Linked DNA regions of Homo sapiens: region 1 is linked to region 2. The links come from fine-mapping of genetic effects on gene expression. A gene starts in region 2. The other region holds a variant in brackets. All regions are shown on one strand. Distances are from middle to middle.

The links. PIP is the estimated chance that this variant, and not a neighbour inherited with it, causes the effect.
Region 1: its variant is the best candidate, but not a certain one, in a credible set for the expression of FERMT3 in whole blood (TOPMed, PIP 0.51).

What each region holds. Positions count from the first base shown.
Region 1 is chr11:64,127,901-64,132,277 of GRCh38, forward strand. The region is part of intron 3 of MACROD1 (mono-ADP ribosylhydrolase 1); the gene reads right to left. Among named protein-coding and RNA genes, the nearest start is that of MACROD1, 36 kb to the right of the region's middle. RefSeq lists an enhancer at 1,577-2,170. The variant G/A (reference allele first, on the strand shown) is at 1,923.
Region 2 is chr11:64,204,624-64,209,000 of GRCh38, forward strand. FERMT3 (FERM domain containing kindlin 3) reads left to right here and starts at 2,098. Exons shown (of 15, transcript NM_031471.6): 1 at 2,098-2,191; 2 at 2,728-2,901. The coding sequence starts at 2,742. RefSeq lists enhancers at 707-1,269, 1,107-1,366, 1,270-1,832, 2,267-2,346, 2,667-2,746 and 2 more.

The sequences.
Region 1 (4,377 bases), 77 kb before region 2:
CAGGAAGGAACAAAATTTCCATGAGAACAATAGCAGTCTCTGCTAAATTTAACATAAAACAAGAACTCATTACTTCTGCCTGAGATCTGATTTCATGTCTGGATACAGTTAACGGGTTTTTCCTTATATTCCAAAGAAGCAAAGTTAATTCTCAGTGGCCGGTGGCCCTGAGTGGGGTGACGTGGGCCCCACAGGTGCTCTCTGCCCCACCCTCCTCCTCCATCCTCACCTCCTGTCCTGCCAGGGCAGGAGCAGCCCAAGAGAGACCACTCTAAGGTGTGGCACACAGTGTGACCACCCAGGAAAGGACCCAGGCTGTTCTTCCAACTTCTCCCTGAGACCCAGCGCACAGTGGGTGCCCAGGAGGGGTGCCCACTCCCTCACCTGAGACCCATTCTCTGGGGCTGTCGAGGGCTCTTTCTGGAACACAGTCAGCCAGCCAGCCAGCCAGGAGATATTGACTGAGGGCCTGCTATGCTCTGGGGCTGGTGTATTCCTGCCTCATGGAGGAGTGAGGAATCTACGTGGCTGAGTCAGGGCCTAGCCTGGGTGGGGCTGGGGAGGCTCTGTGGGGAACCAGATTTCCACAGAGGACGCTTCCACGGATAAGGAGGACTAGGAGGCAATGGGGAAGGCCTGGCACGCCGCCCGCCTGAGGTAGACAGGAGGGCAGGTCCACTTCTGCGCCCCACTCAGGAAGGCCCTGTGTCCCCCCATCTCCCCGTTGCCCCCCTCAGACTCCAGCCTCAGTGCAGCCCCACCCTCTGCCCTCCACGCCTGACACCCCCCAGGCCCAGTGTGGCTTAGACTTCAGGTCTATGCTGCACTGGTTTCCCACGCCTCTGCTGGCCTTTCTCACCTGCACAGGTGACCCCTTCCCACGCCTCGCTTGGCTGAGCCCAGACTGGCAGCTCTTGCCCTCCACACCTCCAGATCCCCAGAGGGCACTTGTCTGGCACCAGGAGGCCCCGTAAACAGGAATGAAGAGTGAGTCGATAAACAGTAAATCAATCAGCCAATCACTCCATGGATCCATGTGAGTACAAGGAGGATGATTCTCCAAGCACAACAGCCCTTGCCAACCCCAGTGAACCCACCCTTCCCCAGGAAGTCCTGCTCCCGGCTTTACCTCACCCTCCCCACGTGTGGCAGCGCCACAAATCTGGGGACACCTGTGGAGCCCTCGAAGCTAGGGAAGAAGGGCTGTGTTCTCAAACTGTGTTCCTCAGCCCCTGGAGCTAACACAGGTGTTGCCCAGAAAGGGTTCCCGGTCACAGGCCTTTGGGAACCACTGGATTAACACCACTGCTCTCCTGGGGCAGGGCCTTGGAGTCCCTGGGTATTGGGTTAGACCCATGGGCTCCGCCAGTTACCACATGTGCTACTCATCCTCTCTGTGCCTCAGTTTCCACCTCCATGCGTACATGATAACAGCTCCATCCCCGACTGCTGTTGGGAGGGTGAGGTGGGACGACACAGGTAATGCCACTGGGAGTGCCCAGCTCAGAAACCACCCGCACCAACCCTACGGCTGTGACGGAGCCTCTGTGAGAGGGCGTGGGAGGCCGGGTTGCCTACAGTTTGTCTGGGGAGTGTAGGCCTCCCCCACCCCCAGCACAGCCTCCTGGGGGGTTTCTCCCGCATTCCTGGCCCCCAGGGATGGAGCCAGGTGCTGAGCTGGTTGGCACTTCTTGCAGGGAGGCCCAGGTTCTTGGCAGGACCTTTGGACCCAGGCAGCAAAGTGCCCCCAGGTCCAGCACAGAGAGGCAACCGTACAGGGTGGGGCCTGTTCCCCAAACCACCCCCACAACAATCCCAGGTCCACGGCCTGCTGAAGAGGATGACAGGCTGGCTGCAGCCTTAGGCTTCAGGATTGGGGGTGGGTGTGGGGGACATCTCAGGTTTTAATACGCGCCCCAGGG[G/A]AGTTGGAGGCTCAGCCAGGTTTGGGCCGCACAGGAGGGAATTGCCAGGACCTGCATTTCAGGAATGAAAGGAAAACCCTCCAAACATAACCTGTTCTGAAGAGGACCGGGTGGTTGGGGGGCCGTGAGCCTCCCGTTCTTACAGGAAAGCAAGCAGGACTGGCCAGTGCCTCAAAGGCACTGCAGGGGACCTGCTGGCCCCAAAGAGCCCTGACACCATGTCTTCAGCTGGATGCCAGGAGATGGGGTGGTCCCCCGAGAAACCTACCCCACACCACTGCTGCAGCCCCCCACCGTGCCACCCTCCAGCCAAGCCACTTTGGGCCCTTTCCTTCCCCACAAATCTCTCAGGACTTGCATTATCACTGAGATTAGGGGCACGTGTGGGTAAGACCCCCGAATGGCTGCCCTGCGGCCAAGAGGCACCTTAAGTCCCGGGGCTCCGGCTTTGTGTATCTGACTCCGTCTGTTTTGTCAGACTCAGGACTAAAAAGCTCCTGCTCAAATGAGAGAGAGAGAGTGGGTGATACCTACCCCTCCATGGCTGCTTTCCTGTACCTGGAAACTGCCCTTACCTGGCTACCACTGGGTTCTGGAAGCTTCCCTTCTCCTGCCCCTACTTCCCAGGAGGGGTCTCTGGCCTCACCGAGCAACCTGAAGAAGAGGCGTCGGAACCTGGGAGGGGTCTAACACCCCAGGCCACACCCCCACACCCAAGTTCTGTGGCTGAGTCTTATCACCCAGCCTAGGAGGGTCCCGGACGCATGGGAGGGCACCCAGCTGGCCCTGAAATTCTGCCTCCGTGGGTCTGACATTGGCTCATCCACTTTCAGGCACCCCAAATAAGGCATGCTTCCAGGACCCCCCCACACATGCCGCTGCCTCCCCGCCGCCGCACCCACGTCACCTTCCAGTGCTGACACTGCCACCTCCCCACCCGCCACCCTGTCCAGCACCTCCAGAGGACCTTCTCCTCCTGCGGCAAAGTAAACAGGCTCTCTGGAGTGCTAACTGACAGCACAAATGAAATCCTGCACTCCCTCCCTCTAAGATTTACAGGGGAAGTGAAATCTTATTTGCAATGCTGCCAAGCCTGGGACGAGATGAAATTATGCCTCAAGAAGAGAACTGGCCGGCCCGGCGAGGAAGCACTGCATCGGAGATGGGCTTATTAAAACCACAGTGGCCACATTTCAACCTGTTTCAGGTGTTAAGTAATTTACTGCCACCCAGAATTCAGTGGCAGGTTTTTATCATTTTTATTCTTGTGATGCAGGCGAGTGCCCCAGGAGGTCCCTGTGCAGGGAGCTGCGGGTCTAAATGCTCCCTGTCACCCCCGCCCCAGGCACTGCAGAGGGAAATGGGGGCCAGCTGCCTGAAGCGGGTGAGGACACCCTGACTCTCTCCAGGGTTACACCCAGCTTGGCCATAGCTCAGAGTGACGGGGAGGGCAGGCTTTAAGACCCTCACCCCACCCACGTGTGGGGGCTCCATGATCCCTCAAAGACCCTCGGGACGTTTTCTTTTTTTTGATGGAGTCTCGCTCTGTCACCCAGGCTGGTGTACAGTGAGGTGATCTCGGCAGCTTCCGCCTCCCAGGTTCAAGCGATTCTCCTGCCTCAGCCTCCCAAGTAGCTGCGTGTACAGGCGTGTGCTACCACGCCCAGCTAATTTTTGTATTTTTACTAGAGATGGGGTTTCTCCATGTTGGCCAGGCTGGTCTTGAACTCCCAACTTCAATGATCCACCCGCATCGGCCTCCCAAAGTGCTGGGATTACAGGAGTGAGCCACCGCGCCCAGCCCCTCAGGATGTTTTCTGAAGGCAGCAGGAATGTAAGCTCTCTGGGAGCAGAGACTACCCTGTTTCAGGCTGTGACTACCAACCAAGCCTTTATTGAGCACCTACTGCATGCCAGGCCCTGTTCAGATGGGGAACATGCAGCAAATGGGACCGAGAGCCCCCTGCCCTGTGGAGCTCACGTGCTGCCTGCCGGTAAGTGTTGAGTAAATATTTGTGGTTGGTTGATGAAAATCTCCTACAGGCAAACAGGCCCTTGAAAGAAAAGAAGCTGAGGAGGGGGGCAGGGGGAACCGGAGGGAAGTGAGTGGCGGGAGGGAGGGGCGCACTTGACTGAGCATCTGCTACATGCCAGTCATCACAGTGACTGCTGGCAGCCCTGGAAGTGGGGCCTCCCCATGCCGGAGCTGCTGGGGCCAGGTCTCTGCACCTTCCCCTGCTCTGGAGAACTATGCAGAAATGGCTGATACTCCGTCTGAACTCATGAGGAACACAGTCTCCTATTCATGGGGAGCTGGGGACAAGGGGACCTACAGTCTGGGATGTGGTTAGGAACAGCCCCACGTCCTCCAAGCTCTCGAGCCCTTTCTCAGTGGTCCCGGGAGGAGAGCTGTTTGATGCCTGCTGGCTTTGGGGGGATTAAGCCTATTATGGAG
Region 2 (4,377 bases):
CTTGCTCTTCTCTTTGGGGCGGGCTTAGGAGGAGTCCCAAGCTGTGGCTTGGCACAGCTCCATGGCTTTGCCAAGAAGGTTGCCAGATGGCGCTGTTGCTCAGCAGCTGGAAGGGAATCTGAAGGCTTCCCCACCCCAAGTAGTACCAATGAGAGGTTCAGATAAGCTTTGGGTGCTGTTAATTCTCCACGTTATAGTGGAGATCCAGAGAACAGGATTCTAATGTGAGATGCTGAGACCTCTGTGGGGAGAGGGCAGCTATGCTGTTAGCTGCTGTTAGATTTAGGAGTTGGGTCATGGATTGTTTTTGTTTTGTTATTTGAGATGGAGTCTCAGGCTGGAGTGCAGTGGTGTGATCTCGGCTCACTGCAACCTCCACCTCCTGGGTTCAAACGCTTCTCCTACCTCAGCCTCCCCAGTAGCTGGGATTACAGGAGCCTGCTACCACACCCAGCTAATTATTATATTTTAGTGGAGACAGGTGTTTCGCCATATTGGCCAGGCTAGTCTCGAACTCCTGACCTCAAGTGATCCACCCGCCTCAACCTCCCAAAGTGCTGGGATTACAGGCATGAGCCACTGCACCCCACTGGGTGATGGGTTTTTTTTGTTTGTATTTTTTGAGATGGTGTCTCTCTCTGTCGCCCAGGCTGGAGTGCAGTGGCGTGATCCAGCTCACTGCAAGCTCTGCCTCCCGGGTTCACGCCATTCTCCTGCCTCAGTCTCCCGAGTAGCTGGGACTACAGGCGCCCGCCACCACGCCCGGCTAATTTTTTGTTTGTTTGTTTGTTTGTATTTTTAGTAGAGACGGGGTTTCACCGTGTTAGCCAGGATGGTCTCAATCTCCTGACCTCGTGATCCACCCGCCTGGACTTCCCAAAGTGCTGGGGTTAACAGGCGTGAGCCACCGCGCCCGGCCTGGGTGATGGTTTTAATGCACGGCTCTTACCTGAGAACTTAGGGTGCTAAGCTTTAATTACACTTTTCCATGGTTGCAACAAGCTGCGTTTTCTAAAGCTCTCTTCCTGGACTGGGGAGGCCTTTGGGGCAGGAGTAAAACTTCCTCATTTGCTCCAAGAGTGCTGCTTTCTGGGCTAGGAAGGCGCTGAGACTAGCAGCTGGCTGGACTTCCTGCTGTTAGTTTCATCAGCTTTCTTTTCCCCTGGGAATCCCCGGCAGGCCGCCCCCTTCCCCATCTGAGTGGCGATGCTCAGGTAGCCTCCCCCATTGGCAGGACTCTGCCGCCCCCAGGCTTGCCCACCCTGCATGCTCCAACCCCAGTGTGTTCACTGGAAAGGCCGCTGTCCTGCGCAGAGCTGGTGGCGGACGTGCCTTGCTCTACTGAAGTCCACATCCTAGGGCAGGTGATGAGCAGGAGGGTATAGACCACCAGAGACCCCTGAGGTGTCACCTAAGCAGGGACTTGATGGGAGTGAGCCTCGTGGGGACTCGGGGAGGCTCATCCAAGTGGAGCACAGTGGAGGGGTCGTGTTTGGAGCTGGGTGACCTGAGGGCCCGGGAGGTTGTGGATGGTCTGGGCCAAGTACTGTTCACTTGTTCACCTGGCAGGTCTGAGTTCATGAGTTTGAAGGTAGCCCTACGCGGAGCTAGGAAAAACTGCAAAATGGACTTGTTTCCCTCTGGGGCCTTGAGGGATCCTTGGTTGATAGGGATAGCCAGGCTGGAGCCGATTTAACCTGTGAGTCCCAAATAACCTGGATACACTCTGTCGACTCCTGGGCTCTCCCTCCGGCAGCCCAGTGATGTTTCAAAGCCCAAGGTCCCCACCTCATGTGACAGGCTGAGGATGGCAGACACTTCCCACAAAAGTGGACCTAGCCCTGAACACACACAGCCGGGGGACTTGTTGAGTTTGCACTGAGCTTCCCTCCAAATGAGGAAGGGGGCGTTTTTATGGTGTTGAGTCGCTAAGCCCCGCTCTCCCTAGCTTCCTGTGCTCTCTGGGGACAAAGGTGGGGGGGCCCCTGGAACCCTCTGTGGGCTGGCAGTGTGCTTCCTGCACCCAGCGCCAGCCCGCCCTGGGGAGGGGCTGAACCCGCCCTGCTCGTGATAAGGCACAAGCAAGGGCTGCCCTGAAGGAAGCTCCAAAGAGAAAGGAGGGCAGGAAGCCCACGGCCCACAGGGGTGTAGCCCGAGACCCACCTGCAGCCCCCAGCCCTTGCCAGGAAAGGTAAGCTCAGGCCTCACTGGGACCCTGGGCCCTTCTCTTCCTTATCCTCCTGCAGCCTCTGCCCAGCCTGCCTCTCGCCATGCGGCAGCCTGAACTTTCCACCTCCCCGGAGAGGCTTTGGCTGGTTTGTGATGTTGGCATCTGAGCTGTGGGCCAGGATCGGAACTACTTCCTGGCCTGGGTACGAAGCCATGGCCAGAGTGGGCAGCTGCCCCTGAGGGTCTGGGAGTGAGCTGTGGGCTGGCATTGAGCACGGTGGTCCTGAGTGAGCCCCTTCTTACCCGGCCTCAGTCTGCCCGCCTGTAGGATGGGAGCGGATTGGACTACATGGTCTCTGAGGGCCCTCGCGGCTCAAGCGCCAGCGCTGGAGAGAGAGTCTGAGGGTACCACGGGCGTGCTGGCCTGGGTGCTCACTCCCGCCCTCCTTCATGAGCGGCTTTCCTCTGGGTGTGTCCAGGGCATCACAGAGCTCTTCTGCCCAAACCCGGAGGCCTACCAGGGCCTGCCCACCTTGCCTCCTTCCACACTCTCTGTAGCAGCAGCCGCAGCCATGGCGGGGATGAAGACAGCCTCCGGGGACTACATCGACTCGTCATGGGAGCTGCGGGTGTTTGTGGGAGAGGAGGACCCAGAGGCCGAGTCGGTCACCCTGCGGGTCACTGGGGAGTCGCACATCGGCGGGGTGCTCCTGAAGATTGTGGAGCAGATCAGTGAGTGTCCGCTGCCCGCTTGCTGAACTCGGCACCATGGGCGGCCGCCACGGGTGTCTCTGGGCACTTCCGGGCCATCCCTGCTGCTCAGCTCCCGATAATGGTGTCACGGTGACTCAGGCATTAGCTTAATCATTTGGTTCCAAAAAAGACATTTCCCCAACTTCCTCTCCCTCCCACCCTCTTCCCTCCCTCCCTTCTGCTGCAGCTGGTCTGCTAAGGATCAGACGCAGCCACAATCCTCCATTCAGCCACCAATAGGGGCAGAAGGAGTGGTCTTGTCTGGGCCGAGGCTGAAGTCACATTGCTGAGGTCTGAGGGGGTCTAGGTGACCCAGGGGCCTGCCCCCACGCTCCCTCCCCTTGGCGGAAGCTTTGAGCAGGTTGGTGACAGGCCCAGCCTGGGTGGGAAGGCCCTGCCCCCACAGGAAGTTACAGCAGAGCAGCTGTGGTATCAGTCATGGAGGACCACGGGGCTAGTGACACGGGGGCTCCTCATCTTCCTTCCCTGCCGGGGGTGGGGGCTACCCCTTCCTGAGAGAGCAGCAGGAAGACCCCGATAGGCAGAGCCGGAAGACAGGCCCACCACAGTCCCGGCCAAGAGCCTGGGCCTGGGCTGCCAGTGGGTGGGGGGTGGGTGATGGTGGGGAGGCTTCCTCAGACCCCGCCAGGCCACCATGTGCAGCACAGGAGGAGGTCAGTCCGACTGTGGAGAGGATAGGGTCCAGAACGGCCCGGCCACAAGACTGAGGCTGTGAGGGGAGCTGCCAGGGGCAGGGCCCGGAGCAGCTGTGAGAATAGAAGTGAGGAACAGAGAGAGGGTGGTGAAGACCTGGGTGGCCCCAGGGCACGGCATGAGGGTAACGCAGGAGGCCTTAACCTGGAGTCAGACAGACCCCGCTGCTCTACCCGCTGCTGGGCACCCCAGGGCAAGTTCCTTTAGCTCTGTGTTCCCTGTGGTGGGGATACTGTCACTCCTAAGCACATCAGCTCTGTCTACTGATGCTCAGCCTGGCCGCCCCGGGCCAGTCCCTGGCCTCCTGGAGCAGCAGCGGGTGAGACTGACCCATGGGGGCTGCGTGCCGGCTGCCGCACAGAGGGCGCTATCATGGGGGCCTGGAGCCAGAGGAGGGGGCTGCCCCGAGCCCAGGATGGGGATAACCCCAGGAGAAGTCCTGAGAGGTGGCCTCAGCAGGGAGGAGCAAGGTGGTGGCGCTGGGACTCGGAGGGCTGTGAATTAGGGCTCTCGGCTGGTGAGGATGCTGGGAGCGTGACCAGAAATGAGGCTGGCTGGTGCCTGGCCAGCTCTGCATGGCCCCGAAGGCCTCCAGAAGGGGTCTAGACTTTCTTCTGGAGGGGAAGGTGGCCACCGAAGGGTTCTCAGCAGGAGGCTGTCCTGCTAAGGTCAGCAGCAAGGCGAAAGGCTGGTGGCGGCAGGCCCCTGAGGAGGCTGTGGTCCTGGTTAGAGACACCAGGG